4 linked regions of the Homo sapiens genome follow. The protein of the gene in region 3 interacts with the protein of the main gene of each other region in a biochemical or structural test. Each region holds a gene or a part of one and is shown on either strand. Other genes may lie near its edges.

Evidence for each region.
Region 1: the proteins of PCK1 (region 3) and AKT1 form a complex in vitro, tested with the Homo sapiens proteins (one study listed by BioGRID).
Region 2: the proteins of PCK1 (region 3) and IKBKG form a complex in vitro, tested with the Homo sapiens proteins (one study listed by BioGRID and IntAct).
Region 4: the proteins of PCK1 (region 3) and UBR5 form a complex in vitro, tested with the Homo sapiens proteins (2 studies listed by BioGRID, with this or other methods).

The regions. Positions count from the first base shown.
Region 1 is NC_000014.9:104,768,350-104,771,974, forward strand, and holds the end of AKT1 (RAC-alpha serine/threonine-protein kinase), read right to left. Parts: intron 2,499-3,625; coding exon 2,396-2,498; intron 2,072-2,395; coding exon 1,992-2,071; 3' UTR 1,000-1,991; downstream 1-999. UniProt on the Homo sapiens protein: AKT1 is one of 3 closely related serine/threonine-protein kinases (AKT1, AKT2 and AKT3) called the AKT kinase, and which regulate many processes including metabolism, proliferation, cell survival, growth and angiogenesis.
Region 2 is NC_000023.11:154,557,382-154,565,106, forward strand, and holds the end of IKBKG (NF-kappa-B essential modulator), read left to right. Parts: intron 1-1,150; coding exon 1,151-1,269; intron 1,270-3,025; coding exon 3,026-3,178; intron 3,179-4,306; coding exon 4,307-4,403; intron 4,404-5,428; coding exon 5,429-5,572; intron 5,573-6,177; coding exon 6,178-6,320; intron 6,321-6,577; coding exon 6,578-6,639; intron 6,640-6,937; coding exon 6,938-7,080; 3' UTR 7,081-7,652; downstream 7,653-7,725. UniProt on the Homo sapiens protein: Regulatory subunit of the IKK core complex which phosphorylates inhibitors of NF-kappa-B thus leading to the dissociation of the inhibitor/NF-kappa-B complex and ultimately the degradation of the inhibitor.
Region 3 is NC_000020.11:57,556,601-57,564,570, reverse strand, and holds the start of PCK1 (phosphoenolpyruvate carboxykinase, cytosolic [GTP]), read right to left. Parts: upstream 3,462-7,970; 5' UTR 3,368-3,461; intron 3,200-3,367; 5' UTR 3,160-3,199; coding exon 2,936-3,159; intron 2,501-2,935; coding exon 2,319-2,500; intron 1,876-2,318; coding exon 1,672-1,875; intron 1,544-1,671; coding exon 1,356-1,543; intron 1,007-1,355; coding exon 844-1,006; intron 403-843; coding exon 178-402; intron 90-177; coding exon 1-89. UniProt on the Homo sapiens protein: Cytosolic phosphoenolpyruvate carboxykinase that catalyzes the reversible decarboxylation and phosphorylation of oxaloacetate (OAA) and acts as the rate-limiting enzyme in gluconeogenesis.
Region 4 is NC_000008.11:102,251,312-102,255,964, forward strand, and holds the end of UBR5 (E3 ubiquitin-protein ligase UBR5), read right to left. Parts: intron 3,204-4,653; coding exon 2,991-3,203; 3' UTR 962-2,990; downstream 1-961. UniProt on the Homo sapiens protein: E3 ubiquitin-protein ligase involved in different protein quality control pathways in the cytoplasm and nucleus. Mainly acts as a ubiquitin chain elongator that extends pre-ubiquitinated substrates.

The sequences.
Region 1 (3,625 bases), on a different chromosome or scaffold from region 3:
GCTTCGGGCTGCTCCAGATGTGGCTGTTCTTGGCTCCCACAGACCCAGAACATCCTCGCCAGCCTGTGCTCCCTATGGGGCACCCCCTCCAGTGGAAGTGAGGGCAGCCACGCACCCCTGGGAATGCCTTAGAGAGGGGCCAATTGCCATCGCCAGGGGCCTGACTCTGCAACCATCCACACCTACGGGGAGTCCATTTGAGAGATGAGGAAGCTGAAGCTCCAGGCCCCTGGCTCGTGCTGGTCACCCAACCACCCGGAACCTGGTCGCCAACCCGCTGTCAGTTGCTCGGCAGTGGACTCCTCTCCTGGCTCAGGGCGCGGTTCCGGCAGGCGTCCACCAGGTGGCAGCACCGGCACATTCTGCAGGCTGTTCCGGCTCAGAGCTCGATGTAGTGCTCTGGGGTAACCTGGGCCCCAGCCTGTCCCCTCCCGCCCCCTGCAGCCCCTCCTCCCACCGCCTGCAGCCCCTCCTCCCGCTCTGTCCAGCTTCGAACAGGCCACTCAGGCCTCCCAGCCTTACTTCCACCGTGGCCCAGGCCATGACCTTGGCCCCAACTCTGGGCCCTGCCCTATCTGTCCTTCCTGGTGGTCTGTCTCATTCACTGCCCTACCCAGGGGAACAGCACCTGGGGCTGGGGGGCAGATGGCCACGTGGTCCAATGGTCTCCTTCATGGCTGGGGTGAAGCTGGGTGGGGTCAAGGGAAGAAGAGGTGGATCCCAACGGGGGCAGGGCCAGCCAGGGCCTCCCATCTCCCCTCAGGCCAGGCCTCTGGAGATGGGGGTGGAACACCTTCCATGGGAGGCTGCCCCTGGGAACAGGCCTGTATACTCCCGCCTCGGCCCACCACACAGCCTGTCCCCAAACCTGTTGGGGTGGCGGTGCCCACCAGGAGGAGCTGGGGAGGACCAGCTGCTCTGAGGATGCTGCTTCCCTCCCAGGACTCCCCACTCCCTCCCTGGCCACCCACTCTTCCACCCAGCAAAGTGAGCCAAAAATTTGAAAAGCAACTTTTATTGAAGAATTTGGAGGGAAGGTTCCATATTATATTATAATAGTAAAAATACTAAAGTTGAATGTTGTAAAAAAACGCCGTGGTGCAGCGGCAGCGGCAGCGTCTGGCCAGGAGGCGTGGAGGGGCCCAGGGATGGCCACCCCCACAGGGAGTCAGGGAGGGCCTGGGGCGACAGCGGAAAGGTTAAGCGTCGAAAAGGTCAAGTGCTACCGTGGAGAGATCATCTGAGGGGGAGGCTCCCGGTGGGACAGTCACCAAGAACTGTGACACAGAAGGGGAAGGGGGAGGGCTTTCCTGTCACAAAGATTAAAAACCCCCAAAATGCATTTGAACAACATAATACACAATAACAAATTTAAACCTTGCTCCTCTGTCCCACTGGGTAAACCCTGGCCCATCCCCCATCCCTGGTCCCATCCCAGGGGCCCAGCCTCCGATGACGTCCTCAGAGACACGGCCTTAGTGCTGGGGGGCTGCTGTGTGCCTGCCACCCCCAGGAGAGGGTGCTGGCCAGCATACCATAGTGAGGTTGCATCTGGTGCCACCAGGTTGAACTGAGGCCCAGGGCCCCAGAGAGATGACAGATAGCTGGTGACAGACAGCCCAGGGCGGCTGGCTGACAGAGTGAGGGGACACATGGGCAGGACCTGCCCGGCCCCCCAATGCCACATTGCGCATAGCTGCAGAAGTCCTTAACATTTCCCTACGTGAATCGGATTGTTCTGAGGGCTGAGGCCACACCCGGAGAACAAACTGGATGAAATAAATTAAAACCCGCAGGATAGTTTTCTTCCCTACCCCGCTGCGGGGGAGGGTGCTGCCCACAGCACAAAAACGTCTTTCCATCTGGGCTCGAGAGGACAGCGTGGCTTCTCTCAAATGCACCCGAGAAATAAAAACCATTAAATACAGATCATGGCACGAGGCCGCCTCTCCATCCCTCCAAGCTATCGTCCAGCGCAGTCCACCGCCGCCTCAGGCCGTGCCGCTGGCCGAGTAGGAGAACTGGGGGAAGTGGGGCCTGCGCTCGCTGTCCACACACTCCATGCTGTCATCTGTGGGTGTAGACAGCTCAGACCCCGGTGCCCCACCTCCCTGCCACCTCCACCCACCCACAGCTCCAGTAGGAAGCCAACCTCTTAAAGCACGGCCAGCACGCTGCCATACTGCCAGGAAACTGAGACAGGGCCCCACAGATTGACACAGGGACCTGGGCCCTCAGAGCACTGCCTCCCACCCTGATCATTGGCACTCTCCAAAAGGAACCTTTTTAAATATTTAGATTTTAAAACATCTGAAGCCAAAAAAGCTGAACACTGCAGGCCTCTCTGAGTGTGGAGAGAAAAGGGAGTGGGCGGGGGCAGGCAGTGGCCCCTCACCTTGGTCAGGTGGTGTGATGGTGATCATCTGGGCCGTGAACTCCTCATCAAAATACCTGGTGTCAGTCTCCGACGTGACCTGGGGCTTGAAGGGTGGGCTGAGCTGCAGAGGTGGGCAGACGGGACAGTCATGAGCTTCGCTCCCCACTCCCAGCACACCCTCAAGTGTGCTCAAGACCTTCAAAGCACCTGGATCTCCAAGGGGTCTCCAGGCAGGACTGATGTCAGAGAGCAGCAAGCCACCAGCCCCCCACAGAGGCAGCTCTGGGAGGGAGGGACATGAGGGGTGCAGGAGCACGGAGACAACCCTCAACAGCTGAGACGCAAAGCTGCCCTCACAGCAGCCCCAGCAGGCGACAGGAGGTAGTGCAGCCCAGCTCTGAGAGACCCTCCCTGCTACCAGGAGGTGATAACTTTATTTTTCCTTTTTCTTTCTTGTTTTCTTATTTTTCTTATTGGTCTTCTTGTAAATTGGGAAAGAGGGAGACTGTGGAACAAGGTGCACAGGATGAGCCCACCCTGCCTCCATGGCTCAGGGACTACAGGACCACAGCCTGCTGGCATCTGGCTGCAGACAGGACTCTCAATGACCCAGGATGAAGGGTGACTATAAGGTGATGTGCACACGTGAGGAGCTGCCAGAGAGCCCCTCAGGTCCCACAGTCAAGGACCCCCTCAAGCACTGCCCCACCCCAGAGTCTGGGCTGGGCACCAGCATTGTCCATTGTCAATTAGCAAGGTCTCTGGTCAAGGCTGGGCAGAGGTTGAGCACTGCCCAGGCCCCCCATACCCTTGGAGGGCAGGGCAGGAGGGTGGCAGGCCTCAAGGCAGGAACGGGGACCAGGACCAGGGCACCCTGTGTTAATGGGAGAACAGGTGCCCAGCTGGGTCCCAGGGCTGCCCAGCCCGACCAGCTGCACACAGCCTAGGACAGGCATTCAGGGGAGGGGCAGGCTGGGAACGGGGCAGAAGCACACCTGGTGACAGGGCACCCAGCATCTCAGAGTGCAGGCTTCCGAACCCAGCTGGCAGACCCCATCAGCTGGGGTGATGGCCAGGGCTCCTAGGGTCCCTGAAAGATGAGCACCCAGGATGGCGACTCATGCAGAAAGAGCTGCCTCCCTCCAGGGCGGACTCCCCCATGTGCCAGAAAAGTAGGTGCTGTCCCTGTCCCTGCACAGCCAGAAATAGGGCTGGGCTCTCCTTGCGGCAGAAGGGATTGAGGTCAAA
Region 2 (7,725 bases), on a different chromosome or scaffold from region 3:
TTGACAAGAACACCGGAGATACACAAAGGTACACAAAAGCGGGCCTTTGTTCAAGCTGGCAAAAGAGATCTTCTTCAGAAACCCCTGCTTGCGGGGGAGAGAGCTGAGCTCCGTTCCCGCCCCAGCAGAGGCGGCCTGGCCTTGCGAAGGGAGAAGGAGGGAGTCGGGAGGGGGCGAGTGCAGGCTCAGGTGAAAGATGACGGGGCAGCCAGCGTCCTTGCCGCGAGGCCAGCCGTGTGTGGGAGCTGCCGGTGCTTACCAAGGTTGGGATGCTTCCGTCCCGTGGAGACTGGGAGACTGGGCCCCGCGCCTCCTGAGGTTTCCGTTTCCAAGGAGTGGCTGCGGGGCCCTCGGGAAAGCCCCTGGGTTGTGGGTGCTACACAGATGTCTCAAAGGGACAGGGTAAGCCCTTTGTAGTAAATGCTGTCAGAAAGGGAGGTCAGGTGTTGGCCGGAACAGACAGTACATGCTCTGGGCAGCCCTGAGCGTTTCCAGACGGGAACTCACTCAAAAGGGGGCTGGGGCGTCCCAGGGGCGCGGCCTTAGGCTCCCAGAGGCCCCGCGAGGTGGTGGCCGGGTGTCTTCGGGCAGGGGTTTGAGTGCAGTGTGCCTGCCGAGAGGTTCTGCAGTTCCCAGTGTTTAACAAAATTCAGTGTCCACTCTTGATCTGCACAAACTCTCCCATCCTGGCGGCCCCGGGTGTGGACTGGGGCCTGTGTTTACTTTGCCCTATTCGTGTCTGGCCTCCTTTTGTCCCAAGTCTCAGAGAGACGGAGAGAGATCCCCTGCTGGGGCTGTAGCTGCAAGGCCACCGGGTTCAGCCCTCGAGGCCTGCTTGCCGGGGCAGTGACTAAGCCGTTGACAACCTCAAGGCAGCTTTGTGCTCCTTCGTCTCTTTGGGGATCTCTTTTTGCCCCATCTGTGTGTCACCCTGTGGCAGAGGGTTAAGGTGGGCAGCTGGGGAGGGTTGGGTGGCCCTTGGGCTCATGAGGCCCTAGGGCACCCAGGTTTGGGGGTGCCGAGGGCAGGAAAAAAGGCCTCATGGCGCGCAGGCCTCAGCCGCTTGCGGGTTGCCCCGGGCTTGCGGATGGCAGGAGTGGGCCGCTGGGGAGAAAGCAGTGCTGACAGGAAGTGGCTTTTTATCCTGCAGCAGATGGCTGAGGACAAGGCCTCTGTGAAAGCCCAGGTGACGTCCTTGCTCGGGGAGCTGCAGGAGAGCCAGAGTCGCTTGGAGGCTGCCACTAAGGAATGCCAGGCTCTGGAGGGTCGGTGAGTCGGGGGAGCCGGCTCCGGAGACCCCTTCCAGGGTTTCCAAAAGCAATGAGGTGGGTTTAGGGGCCTCCAGGGTGCTCCTTGATGAGGATAGACCGGGGCAGGCTGCGTAAAGACGTCGGGGCAGACGTCGGGAGAGGTCTGGGCCAGGCATCCGGGACCTGGGTCCCAGCCGGCTCTCCGCACTCTGTGACCCTTTGATGGAGTTTGGATTATTTCCTTAGGAGGCATTCTGGGGGCCCCGAGCCCACACCCACAGTGTCTAGTTCTCTGGAAGGACTTCTGGGACCGGCGCACAGTCGCCCTCGTGGCTGAGGTTGATGACAGGGAAAAAGGCACAGGGCAGGAGCCGCCAGGGCAGGAGCCGTGGGGGGAGTTGGAGAAGCCCTGTCCCAGCCTCCCGCTGCCCTGCGAGCGGCACAGTGAGAAGCGCCTCCCACACGGGCCGTGTTCCTGCCCAGGGATGCCCGCTAGAGACTCAGCGCCCTGGGTGTTTACTGGGGGCAGGTCCTGTCAGCGCCCTCTGCCAGGCAGGTACCTAAATCCCCGACTCCCAGCAGCAGAGCGGGTGCTCACGTCAACCACGTTCTTCCTACAAATGGCCTAGGTGCAGGGACCGACCTGACCACTAGAGAAAGTGTCACTGTGGCAAGGGAACTTCACCAGCCAAGGGCCAACCTTGCCAGCCGGTGGCCTCAGGCCTGCTGGTTACTCTCTTTTGCAAAGGGGTCTTGGTTCTTGTGAGTGGGACCATTGGGTCAAAGGGCAGGGAGGTTTCTGTGGTTCTCATTCGGTCCTGCTTCTGCCCTCCAGACAGATGGATCAGCTGCCAGGGGGGCCCCAGCCATCCCAGCACAGTAGGCGGTCAAGGTGCACTTGGGGCAGCCAGCAGGGCAGAGGGGAGGGGAGCTTGACCCAGGCTCTGATGGGCAGAGGGAACCCGTGCAGGGTGTGGGGGCAGTATGCAGGCAGGCGCGGAGGGGAGAGCCAAGCAGCCAGGCCTGCCAGGCAGAGTTGGGGTGACTGGAGAAGGGCCGTGTCTGCCTGTGGCCAGAGGCCACCCAGGACCTGGACAGATGCACCCACCATTGTCCCTGCAGTGAGGCTGTGGAAGGGCTTGGTGTGGTGGGATGAGGCCAGACCCTGGAAACTGGAGGTTAAGGGAGCTGTAGGGGGGCAGGTGTGGGAACTGAGCATCCGAGCAGGTCGTCTGGGACTCCAGCAGAGCTCTGGGCAGCAGCAGGGATGGGGCCGAGGCCCGGTCTGCATTGAGCTCAGTGCTTGCACGCCCAGGTGGGCAGTCTCTCATTTTTGGAACAGCAGTCTCTCCTGACCCCCTCCACTGAGACTGCTTTTGCTGGGGCCCCCAGCAGTCCCCCAGTGGAACTCCACGGGCAGTTCCGAGGGCTCCTCTCACCTGGCCCCAGCACTGCGGGATGCAGGCGACCCCATCCTTTTCTCGGACCACCCCCTTCCCCTGGCTTCCAGGTCTCCTTGCCATCTGTACTTGGTCACCTGCTGGGCCCCTGCATTGAAGCAAACACGTCTTAAGCAAAGCTCCTCACCTGCTGCTCCCACCTGGCCCCCTGCAGTTGTCCTCGTGTCTGTTGACGGTGCCTCCACCCTGCCGCCTGGCATCAGCTCGCAGTCACAGGGTGTTCAGAGCCGACCCCCACCCCCCGCCCACGCCCTGCGCATAGCCCCTGCCGTCCCCCCGTTCGTCCTCCCTGAGTCTGCTCTTTCCCCGTGCCAGGGCCCGGGCGGCCAGCGAGCAGGCGCGGCAGCTGGAGAGTGAGCGCGAGGCGCTGCAGCAGCAGCACAGCGTGCAGGTGGACCAGCTGCGCATGCAGGGCCAGAGCGTGGAGGCCGCGCTCCGCATGGAGCGCCAGGCCGCCTCGGAGGAGAAGTGAGTCAGCGGGGGCGGGGCCGCACCGCAGGGTCTGTGGTTCTACACTTGATCTTAGCCGAAAGGCTGAGAAGTGTCGGGTCCATGGTTCTTTCTGCCTTCTGAGGACTCCTTCAGATTCTGCCTGTGGCTGTGGGCCCATTCTGTCCCTTAGCCTTGCTAACGGTAGAGGCGACCATGATGACACCCGGTTTGTCTTTGATACAGTCATGCCATCTGCTCTCCAGACCACGTTTCACTGCGTGTCCACACGTGGCCTTTTTTGTAGTTTTTTTTTCCTAGCCACTAGGTCATCAGGGGACTTGTCCTTTAAAACCCCTTCTAGGCCAGGTGCTGTGGCTCACGCCTGTAATCCCAACACTTTGGGAGGCCAAAGTGGGTAGATGGCTTAAGCCCGGGAGTTCCAAGACCAGCCTGGGCAACAGAAAGACAACAAAAATACCCCCAAACCCCCCCGTCTACCAGCATCCAATCTGGGACCTCAGGTTCCTGTCCTTGGCGTGCCTTTTCAGTCTCCTTTAATCTAGAACAGTTCCCCTGCCTTTCTGAGCTGTTTGTGAAGTTCACAGTTTTGAACAGTGCAGGGTAGTTCCATTGTATTATTACTATTATTTTCAAGACAGGGTCTTGCTCTACCGTCCAGGCTGGAGTGCAGTGGCATAATCTCGGCTTACTGTACCTTCCGCCTCTTGGTCTCAAGCGATCCTCCCAGGTAGCTGGGACTATAGGCGCAGGCCAGCACACCTGGCTAATTTTTGCATTTTTGGTAGAGGTGGCGTTTTCCTATGTTGCCCGGGCTGGTCTTGAACTCCTGAGCTCAAGCGATCCTCCTGCCTTGGCTTCTCAAAGTGTTGGGATTATGGGCGTGAGCCACCGCGTCTGGCCGCGATTTTATTATAAACATTAAAAATACTAGCTTTTAGGAAAACGATATTAACTGCCTGGTGACCAGCCCACCAAAGCCTGCTTTAGAGTTGACGGCCTCAGGAGTCCTCACACAGCCTTGGAAGACCCCATTCCAGGCCTGTGATGCGAGGGAGGGAAGGAAGGGGGTAGAGTTGGAAGCAGGCAGCACCGTGGCTGGACTGGCATGAGGTGGTTTCTCCAGCAAAAGCTCCCTTTCCTCAGGAGGAAGCTGGCCCAGTTGCAGGTGGCCTATCACCAGCTCTTCCAAGAATACGACAACCACATCAAGAGCAGCGTGGTGGGCAGTGAGCGGAAGCGAGTGAGTGCGACCACTGGGGCTCTAGGGCTGGCCTTGCCTCTTCCTCTCCCCGTGGCCCTGAACCTTGAGAATGGGTAGACCTGCCTTAGACTTGCCTTAGACCTGTGTCAGGCTGCAGCTGCGACAGCTCAGGGAAGCTGTGGGGAGATGGCAACCCCAGGATGTTGCTCTCAGGAGTGTCAGCAGGCCATCTTAATGGGGGGCTGGGCCAGAGCCTTGGGGTGCTCCCTCTGTGGGGCTGGGGACGTCTTGTCTCCATGGACATTCCCTCTTGCCAGCCATCGCCATCTGGCACCTGGCTCAGCTTCCCCCAAGCCAAGGTAAGCCCGACAGCATTTCCACCCCAGTGTTGGCTGGGAGCCTTTTCCTAGTTTGTCCTCATCAGACCTAAGCTGGGGTGCAGTTTGCTAGTGATCACATTTTAGCAGGACACCGTCAATCGTAAGTGTACCCAGAGGAGATTTATAAGGACAAAGCCTGAAGCCAGGTCACATGGGGAAGAGTTAGCTACAAAACTGGCCACTTAATCTCTGGAGGGGGGCGTTGGTGGGGTGTGTCTGTGTGTGTCTCAGGGGGCTGGAGATGCCTGCGTGGGAGGAGTGCACCTCTGACCAGGTGGCAGAGTGGAAGGACTGAGGGCTCTCAGCTGAGCTGTGCACATGGCGGGCACAGGACCGGCTGGCTGTGAGTGGGTGTGGCCTGTGGCCTGTGAAGGGTGGGAGGAGGGCTGTGGAGCTGGGGATTCTGGGAAGGGAATGTCGGCCCAGCTGGGAGGTTGTACCAGATGACCTCAGCGGCCTCTTCAGTCCTGAAAAAAACCTCAGCATCTCCTCTGTCGTTTTGGGCCGTGACAGGACGCAGCCATCTCCCTGTGCACGCTGAGATCCTGCAATGGGCCCTCAAATCAGGGGCTGGCATCACCCAGCCTGGTCAGCCAGGGCCACTCTTTCATCCTTCTCAGTTCTTCTCAGCCAGCCTCGCCCTGGGCTGACGAGGCTCCGTCAGCTCCCCTTGCCCGTCCTTAGGGAATGCAGCTGGAAGATCTCAAACAGCAGCTCCAGCAGGCCGAGGAGGCCCTGGTGGCCAAACAGGAGGTGATCGATAAGCTGAAGGAGGAGGCCGAGCAGCACAAGATTGTGATGGAGACCGTTCCGGTGCTGAAGGCCCAGGTGAGGGCCCTCCTCTCTGACCCACCCTGGCACTGGGACCTGGAGAGTCTCTTTGGCGTCTTTTTTTTTTTTTTTGCTTTTGCTTTTTGAGATTGAGTTTTGCTCTTGTTGCCCAGGCTGGAGTGCCACTAGTGGCACGATCTTGGCTCACTGCAACCTCTGCCTCCCGGGTTCAAACAATTCTCTTGCCTCAGCCTCCTGAGTAGCTGGGATTACAGGCGCCTGCCGCCATGCCCGTCTAATTTTTGTATTTTTAGTAGAGACAGGGTTTCACCATGTTGGCCCAGCTGGTCTCGAACTTCTGGCCTCAGGTGATCTGCCCACCGCAGTCTCTCAAAGTTCTGGGATTACAGGCGTGAGCCACCGCACCCGGCCTCTTTGGCATCATTTTGTAGTGGCCTTTCGTAAGCTTCTGAGCCACTTGTGCTGCTCCTTAGACCTCTCGGTGAGCTTGGCATTACTCGCCGACGTATCTGTTTCCTCTGCGCCGCTGGGGGCTCTGGGAGGACAGCAGTGGGTTCTGCTTTGTTCCTGTGGTGCCTGGCGCAGTGCCTGGTGGGTGGCTGGCTTGTGGCGGGCACATCCCTTTCTGTTGGATTTGCCAGGCGGATATCTACAAGGCGGACTTCCAGGCTGAGAGGCAGGCCCGGGAGAAGCTGGCCGAGAAGAAGGAGCTCCTGCAGGAGCAGCTGGAGCAGCTGCAGAGGGAGTACAGCAAACTGAAGGCCAGCTGTCAGGAGTCGGCCAGGTGGGCCTCTGAGAGCGTGCCCGTGTGAGCAGTGGGTGCGACACTGGGGGGTCGCCAGTGGTGACCCCGCAGTGGGTGCGACACTGGGGGGTTGCCAGTGGTGACCACAGGAGACGGATGGCTCCTGGTGTTCTGGGTTAGGGCTCACTGTGGTCCCTCTCCTCTCACCTGAGCTTCCAAGAGCTGCTTTGACACTAGTCCAGCCAAGGAGCTTTACAGAAATGCGTGGCTTGACTGGACGGTTTCTGTTTCCAAAGGATCGAGGACATGAGGAAGCGGCATGTCGAGGTCTCCCAGGCCCCCTTGCCCCCCGCCCCTGGTGAGTGAGCGAGAACTGGGCCTGCGGGAGGAGGTGGGTGGGGAGGGCAGGTGCTGCGCCGCGGGAGGTCACAGTTCGACCTTCCTGTTGCTCTCTGGAGACTTGACGGCGGGAGCTCGTGTAGGCCACCCCATCGGTAGCCCACCCCCTTCCCCGAGGCTAAGGGAGGCATGCCGTGGTAGCGGCGGCTCCTGGTCTTACATGAGTGGCCTGTGAGACCAGGCCTGCCATTGACAGTCCTGCCAAGTCTCCGTCCCCCTCCATCCTCCCCTTCCCTCTGACTCTTCTCTTTTCCCAGCCTACCTCTCCTCTCCCCTGGCCCTGCCCAGCCAGAGGAGGAGCCCCCCCGAGGAGCCACCTGACTTCTGCTGTCCCAAGTGCCAGTATCAGGCCCCTGATATGGACACCCTGCAGATACATGTCATGGAGTGCATTGAGTAGGGCCGGCCAGTGCAAGGCCACTGCCTGCCGAGGACGTGCCCGGGACCGTGCAGTCTGCGCTTTCCTCTCCCGCCTGCCTAGCCCAGGATGAAGGGCTGGGTGGCCACAACTGGGATGCCACCTGGAGCCCCACCCAGGAGCTGGCCGCGGCACCTTACGCTTCAGCTGTTGATCCGCTGGTCCCCTCTTTTGGGGTAGATGCGGCCCCGATCAGGCCTGACTCGCTGCTCTTTTTGTTCCCTTCTGTCTGCTCGAACCACTTGCCTCGGGCTAATCCCTCCCTCTTCCTCCACCCGGCACTGGGGAAGTCAAGAATGGGGCCTGGGGCTCTCAGGGAGAACTGCTTCCCCTGGCAGAGCTGGGTGGCCGCTCTTCCTCCCACCGGACACCGACCCGCCCGCCGCTGTGCCCTGGGAGTGCTGCCCTCTTACCATGCACACGGGTGCTCTCCTTTTGGGCTGCATGCTATTCCATTTTGCAGCCAGACCGATGTGTATTTAACCAGTCACTATTGATGGACATTTGGGTTGTTTCCCATCTTTTTGTTACCATAAATAATGGCATAGTAAAAATCCTTGTGCATTAGTCGTGCGTATCTTTGGCATAGATTCTGAGAAGTGACACCACTGAGCATGGGCGATGGCG
Region 3 (7,970 bases):
ACCTTCCGGAGACTCCCAGGCAGCATCAATGATGGGGCACTGGCTGGCAGGGGTGCAGAACCTCGAGTTGGGGTGGGCACAAGGTTCCCCTATAAGACAGAGAAAGGCTCGTGAGTGCCTGGCTCAAACAGGCAGTCCCTGCAGCCCGGCACACCAAGGCCTCTGGCAGGGACACACCATCCTCTGAGCTCCACTCCTTATTCTTCCAGGACGTGATGGTGACACCTGAAGCTAGCGGCTCATCAATGCCTTCCCAGTAAACGCCCCCGTCGCTGGTCTCGGCCACATTGGTAAAGATTGTGTTCTTCTGGATGGTCTTGATGGCATTGGGGTTGGTCTTCACTGAAGTCCCAGGAGCGACACCGAAAAAGCCATTTTCTGGGTTGATGGCCCTTAAATGACCTGGAGAGTTTTAAACCAGAGAAGCAGTAGTGAGTGCCAGGCAAAGCAGAACATATACTCTTATATATTGCCGGACTAATTTCTATGCCAACTTCTCAAATCTTTTTTCCCTCCCTAGAATATGCATTTATCTCTTTTCATCCAAGCATCATATGCAACTTTGATACGTTTACGACTCTTGCTTCCTCCACAATTTTCCACCAATACCATTTAAACAAATGTATGTATGTAAACAAACAGCAACATATGGCCCAGTTTCAATCCAGATTGAATATTAAGTTGAAGAATTCTTACAGGATCCATATTTCTAAGGCTTGGCCAACTCTGGACTAACAGAGTTTAAAAATCCAAACACTGGACTGAGGAGAATGTGACATGTTTCGAAGGCCAACGATTCGCTTGAGTCCAATCGTTACCAAGAGTTGGGTCTAAAAGAGTCACCTTGTGCGTCAAACTTCATCCAGGCAATGTCATCCCCGACGCACTCAACCTTCCACCCGGGGAGGCTGGGGTTCATCATGGCCAGGTTGGTCTTCCCGCAGGCGCTGGGAAATGCGGCCGCCAGGTACTTCTTCTCACCCTCAGGGTTGGTTATACCCAGAATCTGTTGGGGACAAGATTCTTTATTGTGATCTTTGTTTCCTTCTCCCCGAGGTTGGTACTTCAGCCCAGAGGTTGGAATGTAGGCCCTCAAGATCTATTTCTTCAGGTATCAGTGCAAACAAACACTCCCAGAATCATGAAGTCCAAAGGATCTCTATGGTCCCCTGGTGTTTGGGGGCCTTCAAAAGCGATGTATATGTGTAAACTAATCATTACTGGTGGGGTTTCCCGATCTGTCCGGGAACCTGCACGCTCAGAGAGGTGTGCTGACGGGTGGGAACTGTAATGCTGTTTGTTTCTGCCACCCCCCAGGCCTCTCATCTGCACATCAGGGCTTCCTGCAGGCTCACCAGCATGTGCTCTGCCAGCCACCCTTCCTCCTTGGCCAGCCGGCTGGCCATCCTGAGAGCAAAGCACTTCTTCCCGAGCAGCGAGTTCCCGCCGTACCCACTGCCAAAGGAGATGATCTCTCTGCGGTCAGGCAGGTGGGCGATGAGCGTCAGCTCCGGGTTGCAGGGCCAGTTGTTGACCAAAGGCTCTGTGAACAAGGACCCCTCCCAAGTCAGTGCGCCAGGGCCCTGCTTGGGGGTCCCCGAGGCACTCACTGGGGTTTGCGTTCAGCTTTCTTTTTTATTTTGACTTTTGATTCTGAAATAATACACTTACTTTGTAAAGGCAGAGGGCACCCCACAGAATGGAGGCATTTGACAAACTCCCCATCGCCCACTGCTTCCAGGACGGGCGTGCCCATCCGCGTCATGATCCGCATGCTGGCCACCACGTAGGGTGAATCCGTCAGCTCGATGCCGATCTTTGACAGAGGCGAGCCCAGCGGCCCCATGCTGAATGGGATGACGTACATGGTGCGACCTACAGGGTGCGATGGGTGGGCACTGGTGAGAAATGACCTTGGACTTCGAACACGACCAGCATTTTTTTCCCAGGTAGACCCATTTTCACGGTGTTCCACTAACACCACCACACCCTGCTGGTCACCAGCCCCCTGGGTTAGAAGAGGCCACTGGAAAGTGAACAGCCTGCTGAAATTAAAGAGTTTTCATAAATGTGCAATTGGGTCCCACCAAGCTATTTAAAACCCATATGCATGGAACTAGTTTTCACGTTTGTATAAGACAGTCTGTAAAAGCAGAAGAGGGATGTGCATTTTCAATACATTGCCAACTTCATGTATGGAACTGAAAGACATCTGAGGTGGTGGGAGCTTCCATTATTGTTTGAATTACCATTAGGATAGATGTAAATAAGAAAAGGCTCTCTGCTGTTTTACCCAATCAAATCAATGTTCCGCTCACCTTTCATGCACCCTGGGAACCTGGCATTGAACGCTTTCTCAAAATCCTCCTCTGACATCCAGCGACCGAGCTGGCTGAGGCCTGTTTTGGGGATGGGCACTGTGTCTCTTTGCTCTTGGGTGACGATAACCGTCTTGCTTTCGATCCTGGCCACATCCCTGGGGTCAGTGAGAGCCAACCAGCTGCAAAAATCACAGGCTTCCTTTCAGCCAAGCACCACGGGCAGCGAACCATCTCCTTCAGTACCGTGGCTTTCCATGCCTAGCAGAGTGCTGAGCACGCTAACAACAGTCCATCAGTGTGAACACACAGACCATCTAAGACATGGCCAGGTGGACATTTACTCCACTAGGACCTGGTCTGTAGGAGAGGGGCTGCCTTTTTTTTAATCAGGAATCTAGTTGGCAGAGCTTTTGTGCACACACCTCATTTAAAGCTTGGGCTGGCCCACTAATGTCACAAAATTCAAGTCTGTATGGTTCTGACCATTGCATTCATCTTCTCAAGAGTCTGAAACTACCCGAAGGCCTTCATTCACCTTTCTCCACCAACTCCCAGGAGACGCAGGGGAGCCCTGCCTGCAGGGTGCTGGGACAGGCAGCGGGGGCCGAGCTTACCAGTTGTCATACTTCTTCAGCCGCCTGAGGATGCCCTCTTCCTCCATCTGGCCCAGAAGCCGCCCATTCTCCTCCTCAGAGCCGTCACAGATGTGGATGTGATCAGGCTGACACAGCTCAGCGTTATTCTCGAGAAACTCCCTCACTGCCTGGGGTAGGCTGTCCAGGCTTCCCTGGACAACTTTGGCCGAGAGGTTCAGGCCGTTTTGCAGCTGAGGAGGCATTTCTGCAGAGTGCTGCTAAGGGGCACGAATGTGAGGTCACCTGAAATAGAAAACGCAAGCGTCCTGAACAAAAACAACAACAGACACCTTCAAACACATTCGACGGCCTTTTGCCAGGGCTGTGCATTGCCAAATAGTTATTGCTCTCAGGAAAAAAATGAGTTCATCTTTGTAATTTTTCAAAATGTAAATGCAAAGCTCTACTTACCTTTCTTCTCTTTGGATGATCTCGAAGGGAGATCCACAGGTTTCTTTCCGGGCTCTTCCCGCCAGCAAGTTTGTGTTCCCAGTGGGAAGGCCGTGCTTGGTGGCAGAACCTCCCAGCTTTAAATACTGTGGAAAAGAATAGCCCTGCCCCTCAGCTGCACCCAGGGAGGCTCGCCACTGACGTCAGGGGGCAGGTCTCTGGATCACGGCCAGGGTCAGTTATGCTTTGGGCCAACTCACTGCAACACGCCCCAGGGAGATAATCATTGAACAGATAGTTGTTAATGAATGCTGGGAGACTTCGAGCCCTCAACCAACCATAGTGAGTTTTGACACAACTTCCAACTGACTAAACCTTGACCCATTTTACTGCTGTTGCAAAACACAACACCCTTTTCTTAACAGGCAGGTGGGTCAAGGACAAGGTTGGCCGGGGCACCTGCTAGCAGCACATTTTGTGTACCAAGAGCTGCTGGTTGGCAAAACACCACAGCTATAAGATGTCACCCCATAGTCAAAGGTCACAGTCAAAGTTCATGGGAAGGATGCACCCTAACTTGGGCAAATATGTGGCTTATTGGCAAAGATTGGAAATGCCTAACCTAACTGGGGGCTAATCACTGTATTGATTGTCTGCTCTGTGCCGCCCCCGCCCCCTGCCCCGATGTAAACTCCATGAGGGCAGGGATTTCTCCCTATTTTGTTCATTTTTCTCTCTGTAGTGCTTGGCATAGAGTAGGCACAGGATGCACACATGCTGAGCACTGTTCTAAGAGCTTGGCATCATTACTACCCTCTGAGGTGGAGGCTATGAACAACCCATGTACAGATAGGGAAACTGAGGCAGAGATTGTGTAGCCACTCACAGCCGGCTGGTGGGTTGCAGAGTGAGGATCTGAACATGAGCAAGTTGGGCCCTGGAGCACCACGTCTCTCCCTGTGAGGTACCGCCACCTTTCCAGAACCTTCCCTGTGTCCTCCAGGGAGTTCTGGGCTGAGTGCAGTTACTCCTGCAGTCCACTGGCCACTGTTCTCTTCCCTGGCAAGTCTTAGAGTTTAGGGAGTGGAGGGGGCTTGGCAGTTTTGCTAGATTATATGCTTAAGCAATGAAACCTTTATAACAGTTGTAAAGAATTTGCTTTGCAAGCCATCAGACCTTCAGTCAAATTTAATGAGCTATGGAAGCTGCTTGCTGGAGTTTGGAGAACACAGGGTGAAATGTCAAAAGAACGGGGCTAGGTCTCAACCCCCCACAGCCAGCCCACACTTCCATGGAAGCCTCTCTACCTAAGATGAGGTCAGGTGGGGACTTGGCCCATCTCCCCGCTGGGGTGTGGGATGATCCCTGAGATAATCCCAGGACTGGGCTTAGAAAGAGCTGCTGTGGCAAATACAAGTCACTGTGAATGGCAGCCTCCGACCAAACTCACTTAGAGAACCCTCCTGGGGGCTTGGGTCACACTGTGTTGGGCGTGGGTCACACATCATCAAGTTCCACCAAAATTATCAACCCATTGCTATGTTTCCTGTATTCAGATTTTATTCAGCCAGTTGTGTCTTTCAGGATAAATATGATATGAGGTGCTTTTTGTTTCATTTGAAGTTATTCCCCGTTTAGGTCACTGGCATTTGTTATTAGTGGTGCTGTCATCCATACATAAGATCGTGTTGTGTCTAAACCCAACAGTGACGTGATGCTCAGTAGCCGAGGCCACTTCGTTAGCATCTGACATCAGTGAATTAGCCATCCCGATGCATGACCACAATTCCGTGACACACACATCACTCCCGGCGAGACTCATCCCACCAAATTGGTAGAAAGTCCCATTTTGCTGATAAAACGGTAACAGGTTTGAGTACCTGAAAGAGCACATAGATTGAAAACAAAAAGGGAAAGCAGAACTCATTTGGAGTCCTAAATGCGACCCATCCATTCCAGGTGCTTATGTTCTGAGTCTTCTGGGAGAGAAACAGCTAGTTCAAGTAAAACGTCAGAGCAGTGAGTCACCAACGACCTTCATCCGATCCTTTCATTACCTGCATTTACAGCGTGGAAGGACGGTAATGATTCCCCCGCAACTGTCCCTTGTCAAAATGTTAAAAAGCAAACATTGGTTTACAGACTTGCCTCAAAGGACAGAGTTCTCTGGAAGAAGAATCATGATAAAGTAGAGGGGTTTTGAGGACACACAGGCAAAAGTATGGGTACAGTTGCCTTAGGTCTTGGCAGATGATGCCCTCGGGCCCCCATTTTTCCTGTCCTTAGAGACTCCCTGCCCCAGTGGGGACTCATTGACAACAATTTCAAGGGGCTGGCCGGAAGCATGGGTCTTCCTCATCTGACTGTCAGCTTATTTGTAAGTAAGCCTCAAAACTAACTACTGTCTGTTGGTTTCAACAGGGACCCGAAGAAGCAGCCAAACAGCCACCCTGCTGGTGGGATCCCTGAGGACCCCCAGTTAACCCGCCGAGTGGACTTTGCAGTGTGTGCTCAGTGGGTGGGGCATGGAGGTGGCTCACGCTGCCTGTGAGTTGCGTTAGTTGTTTCTGGGACGGATGCCATAGAGACCTCCTAGCTTTTGGGGAGCTCCTTAGGCTCAGATTTTCTTAGGTCCAAGGCTGCTCTTCTTTTGAAAAATGTATAAAAAGTTGAGCCCAGATACAAAATTGGGGAAAGAAGGAGAAAGAAAGATCGGACACTAAAATAGTTTCAAACTAAAAGGGACTTCCTCCCTGCACCTTCCTGGGGCCACTCCATGTTTTGCAGTTACTCAGGGATATCGATTGCTTTTTCCCTGCTTTGTGACCACACCAGCTATATCCTGATACGAGATAATTAGACGGATTTAAAAAGGTAAAGAGAAGTTTTGCATCCAATTTGCTGCAATCTCATATTCTCTAGGAAGCCTCAGCTCAAACGTTTATTAAATGCTTGCTATGTCTCTAGCACCGGGCATAATAATCTTCATAATACTGGGCTTTCTCTGCATGCCAGAAATGGGATGCATTCCATGATTTTCTCCGATGTAGGTACCTTTGTTATCTTTCCCATTTTATAGATGAGGAAACTGAGGGTCTCAACCCAGCTGGGTATAGACGAGGGTCGAGAAAGGAATCATATTCATTCCTTCAACAGTGAATGAGCAGCTACTATTGCCAGTTCTCTAGATGTGTCCTCAAACTGAGAGTCCTTTTCCTGTCTATACTCCCAGCACATAGTCATCAAGCACTTGCTGAGCACCTACTTCATACTGATCCTAGGGTCCACTTCATAGTCTCAAGAGCATGCCTCACTCTTGGAAGGGGGCTCTTCTCTTGGAGTTTCATGCTCTGGGGTCACTGTCTTGAAATTCATAGTGATCTTCTAAGTTTGTGTCACTTCTACATTTGAAGGGATGATGGGGCACGCGGCGTGGCTCTTGTACAGTTCTGCCTCCCTCAGCCTTTCTGCTTCTAAGGATGGAGCCTCAGCTGCCCGCTCCCCTGTCTCTTCCTGCTAGGTGACCACTGCTGCCCTCCACCCCGACTAGGGTCTGAGCACAAGGGCAGGGAAGTCAGGTCAGAGTTGTGCGCCCATGAGGGTCTGCACTCATTCCCATGAGCATCCCCTGCCCAAGGGAGCGCAACATCAAACAGCAAATGCAAAACATGCCACAACAGATAGAGAGACCATGGGAGAAAGGAACACAGGTTTTTTTTTTTTTTGTCCTTTTTGAACAAGGGGCCCTGTGTATTTTGCACGTGGTCCCACAAGTTATGGAGCTATCTTGCCTAAGAAACAATTTCCTCAAAGACTTAAGATGGAGTTGGGGAGACCCCCACCCTGATGTTAGAGTATTTGGTTTATCATCAGACCTACATGATGGTCCAATTAAAGAAGTTGTACATGGCCAAGTGCCACATAGACAGTTCCAGTGGGAGAGCCAGGGCCACTGTCTGCTATCTAAAATGTAATCAAGACATTGGTACAGTGCTTTGCAGTTAGTGAGAACGTTCCTCGAACTGCTCATACAAGGCCCCTGCAGGAGGGGGCCAGACAGTCATGGCAGACCCAAGGAAGCAAGGGGAGTTCCAAACACAAGTCCTCTGGGTCCCCCAGGCCAGGGTGCGCCTGTCCACCACACTTAGTCTACTGAGCATGTGTTGGGGAAGAAGTGGTCAGTGACAGGGCCACCTCTCAGGTGTCATTTTGCACCTGTGATGGACTGTAGCCCAATTTCTCCCAGCAGCCTACCATGAAGGGTTCTGGAAGAGTGGGTGAACTGGACTTTGACGAGCCTGTAGAATGCCATGCAGGATGGAGCAGTGACAAAGACAGCAGAAAACACGCGCAGGGACAGCCAAGATGCAGCAGGTGTGACCGGGGAGGTGGGTGTGGGGAATGGCTGCATTCCAGATGAACAACAGAAAACAAAGCCATGACTTTGGCGGGGTCTCACAGTGGAGGATTCAGAGGACAGTCTGATTGCAACACATGTTGGTGTTTCTTGGTTACCTGGAGGCCAATAAAAGAACAGAAATTCTGGGCCGGGTGCGGAGGCTCACGTCTGTAATCCCAGGACTATGGGAGGCTGAGGCAGGCGGATCACCTGAGGTCAGGAATT
Region 4 (4,653 bases), on a different chromosome or scaffold from region 3:
TTCCTCTCGAGGATCATAATAGTCTTTCTCATGGGGTAAAATAATACATGTGGAACACTCAACAAGATGCATGGCACACAGTAAGTACTGTAATAAAAGTAATTTAGAGAAACAGAAGATACTTTGCTTAACCCAAGATACCTTGAGGTAAATTTAAAAGTCACATTTTAAATACATTCCTATTGTTTTTCATACAACTATCACTTCTGTGGTAATCAAATGGTGTTTAAATAATCTATGTTTATGCCTACTTACATAGGTTAACATAAACAGTAAAAATATTTTCATTCACTACCCAAGCACAGTCTATTGAAGGCACTTCCAACCAGCCCCTTATCAGTAGGAAGAATCCAACCTAGGACTAGTTTATCAATAGATGTACTTTTCCATAGATTGTAAGCAGTTCTAAGTAGGAAAGGTTTGGCTCTCAGGAGCTTTCAGCGGGACATTTATATTTGTAAATAAAAAGGAAATATTCTTTGGGCAGTGTTTCAGAATCACCTGGGATGATCTGCATGAAGATTCCTGGCCTCCACCAAAGACTTACTGAATCAGAAAGGAGGCAAGAGGATGAGGAATGCTTAAGAATCTGCATTAACAAACTTTACAAATGAATCTTACAACATACAGAAGCATGGAAACTACTGCCTCAAGGGATTATCTCAACTTGAGTTTAAACATAGGAATTGCTGACTACCTTTAAAATGTAAAAATAGTATCTTTATGGGAGGGATGTTGTTTGGGGGCAGCTACTAAATAGTGAAATCATTCCTTTAAAATACCCTCTCAAGTCTGCCCCAGTTATCCATTTTACTGGATAGTCTTGGTATCCAGATGATTTAGGGAAAAAAATAGTAGTAGCAAACTCTGAAAACACTCAGTAAAGTTCATTCTTGGTCTTCTCTTCCTAAATTTGTTTTCAATTGTTAGATTTAAACACTAAACAAGACCAAAAGAGAACTTTATTTTACATGTCTTTATTTTACATTTAGAACCGTTTTATGATTTACTTAAAAAAAAAATCTTTTACTATTATTAGAAGTATTTTTTAACCAAAATCTTGATTTAGGAAGACTTAAGACATTGTGCATTATTTTAAATATTTTCATTTCAGTAACTATTAAAAATAAATTCACAATTAGGGTTTCAAATGTCCTAATCATATCTAGTTTGTTCTCATTTAATATTTTATCAATCCCATCATGTGCATACAGAGGTTAAGGTGATGTATAAATTTTATATCTTTCAAACACATTGATGCTAATCAGCTCTTGATCTAATTACTATTTCATTTATTCAGAAATAGCATTTAGACATAAAAACCAATGTCTCACTTTGTAAAATAACCTTTGGCTAATTTACACACATCTAATACAGCGTGTTATATAAGTTTTAAGTAATACAATGAGTCACTACTATCATTCAGTTTTAAATATTTTTAGTGTTAACAGGGCTGAGAATATCATGTGGTTCAGTCTTCTGAAGGAAGTTATATAATAAAAGCATAGTGCCTTTGAACATGAAGACTATCCTCAAGGCCAGAAATCCTACAAAGGAACTGAAAGGAGAGATTCCAGAGAATTGCTCTCCTCATTTTTAATATGTAAAGTGACTGTTTTAAGTCACTTCATTGAAGACTTAAGGAAGAAAACAGTGTTATTATGCCACTGAATAAAGCTACTTAAACCAGAGTAATTTTGGGATATTAATCCTAGGCTACATAATTAATAGGTCATCAAAACAAAAACCTGTCAGTTATTAGGTGTAAGTTAACTTCCTATGCCAAGTAAGGGGTCACACTTCACTTCCCCCATTTGTAAAATGAAAAGGTGGCCAGGCCAGTGCCATTTAGGATTCTCTGCTAACTGTAAAATGTGGACTGATTTTCTTCTGTTTCTTATAGTCCAGGTGTATATAAACTTCCAGTTCTTTAAGTCAAAATTTTTATGCACATAACCATGTCAGTGTATTGCCCTTAGTTTAAAAATGTACAACTACATAAATAAAAACTATTGTTTCTTCAATATTACTTGACATTTCTTCTGTAATTTCTTTATTTAAAAAAGTAAATGTAACAAGATACTTAAAAAAGGCTAGATACAAAAGTAGTTAAGCTGCTCACGAACATTTAAAATTTTCCAAAATGTATCTTCAATAATCATGATCTTATAAAACATTTTACAGTTATCAGAAAGTGCCCAGGCTGAGTTTACATAACTGAAATACCTTAGTACAAATGTCTAGTTAGAACTGAAGTGCAGTAACCTCTTGAGACTGACTGCTCATTGAAATAGGGATACAAAGAAAAAGTTGATTGTGATAAAAGTATTGTGCATTGGCCCCATCATATGTACAAAAAAAGTGCCCTCACTCAAATGAGCAAATTACATGCAAAATATTAGTGATATCATTTAATATCCTAGAGCTCAATGCAGTCAAACCGCAATAAAAGTGGTTTTTATAGGTAAAAGTGATTTCATCTCTTAAGATCTGAATGTCGAGAACTTTTTTACAAGTTCCATATACATGATACACAGTTGCAGCCAACCACAAATTAAACACCATAAAAAAAGTTAAAATGAAAACACAGAACATACTTAATTTTTTATTTTGAAATTCCCTATTCCCTCTATACAAGAACCTTTGCTGAAACAGTTTCCACAAAGGCAGCAGTGAATTTTCAGAACATTTACATTTTTTCCCCCTCAGCAAAAAGATAAATCACAGTGTAAATTATGTTGTTCTGCTGTCATCTTTGGCTGGGGTTAGACCCAGAAGTTGGTGACTAGCAAACCAATATAGCCAAATGTTGCTAGTGCTCCTTAGGCCTTTAAGCTATAAACTCAGCAAGGAATGTCTGCATTTTATCTCTTTAAGGTACCACCAGGGGGGTATGACAGCATTAACTTCCATAAACTTTTATAGACAAATGGAAAAAAATCTACAAAATTTGCTAGTAATATTACACAGCAATACACACTTTTTATACTCTACACAAAACCAAAATTCTTGGTCTTAATGGCGAGTAACAATTTCTGTTTGAGAATCTGTTTAGAGGAATAGAGTGGGACGTAAAGTCGAGAAATGCAAGTATTTGCAGTAGGAAGATGTTGGTCATCTGGTGGTCTTATTGTGATTGAGGGCATAGGCTGGAATCCTTCTTCACTGGCTGGCAGTGATGGGCTTGATGTCCAAAAGTAAACCTGAACAGGAATTTAACAGGTTAATATTTAACTCTTAACTCTGGCAGTATATACACAAAGCCCTATTGTTATGTTAATAACCTAAAAGGAGATATTATTTTGAACTGGATTTTAAATATATTTTCTTGTACTAAAAAGGAAAGGGATCATTCATACCTCAAGACAGGTTTTTGTTTTTGTTTTTTTTCCCCAAAGGAGTAAGTCTAGAGTTAGTAGAGGAAAAAAAGGTGACTTTCTGTCACAGAGCCTCAGTATTTTCATCTGTAACATGAGGCTGTTGGACTAAATGGTTTCTAAGAGCCTTTCTTGCAGCTAATTCCATAAAGTGTCTATTAGTGGAAAAAAGGCTGCCAAACAAAAGATACGGTCTTAGGTTCAAAACTCACACAGGTTATCTTAAAAAGTTATTTTGCATTAAGGAGCAAAATAATGCAAATAATAAAATAATAAAGCAAAAAAAGTATTTACTGCTACATTGTGATACAGAATCATTTTATAATAGTAATTATTGGGGAACATCTATCTATGCATCAAAATTCATGCAATAAGCCATATTAACACTAAGTTTTATCATACCTCTGTAATAAAACTTTGTGCAACACAGTGTAAATGATGCTCAGTAAATGTGAACTTACACTTTTTAACTTAACCAAGGATATGCCTCCCTGAAATAGTTTGCTGAACATGTAACATTCCTCATCAATCCATCCCTTCATACATACGCATCATTCTTCAGTGTCTGTCTCTCTTAAGGAAAAGCTTTTTTTTTAATCTAATCATTTTATAATGCACAACAATGAAGTATATCCAATTTCCTAGAATGACTAGGAAACCTAAACAAACTTAAGATTTCCTGAAGCACAGTTGTATGGGAAAGCTCATCTAGAATTCTATATAAAGGGACAGAAAAAAAAAAAAAAAGTTAAGTATCAGGATCTATAAAATCTGAAAAGAAATAGAAAACAGGTACTCTAGAGATGAAGTTGATCTAAACCACTCATTTCATAGATAAGAAACAAGCTTAATATAAAGTGTTTCTCCAAGGATGAATGTGGTTAACCAGGGTAGATGACCTCACTGCTGGATCTCTAAGAAGTTGGAAGAGAAATACTTTTACTAGTGAATTATAACACTCCAAGAGGGAAATAAACTGTAGTTTACCCAATAACTCTGGAAACCCTATAAGTTGCAGGACTAATTAATTCATGGGAGAACTGTTTCAGAAACCCCATTCTTATGTCCTCTAGATGCATCAGGATGAAACCAAACAATATGTGAAGGATGACTTCCCAAAAAGAGGAGAAGGGTAAGGGGGAGGAAGATACCATGATAAACTGCTTACACCCTAAACATAGATTTTCAATAAGAGTTTAAGGTTCACAAACTAAAGCTGTTGACAGGAAATTTTGAGGTCTTTATAGAAGGAGATTTTCTTTTTTCTAAGATTGAG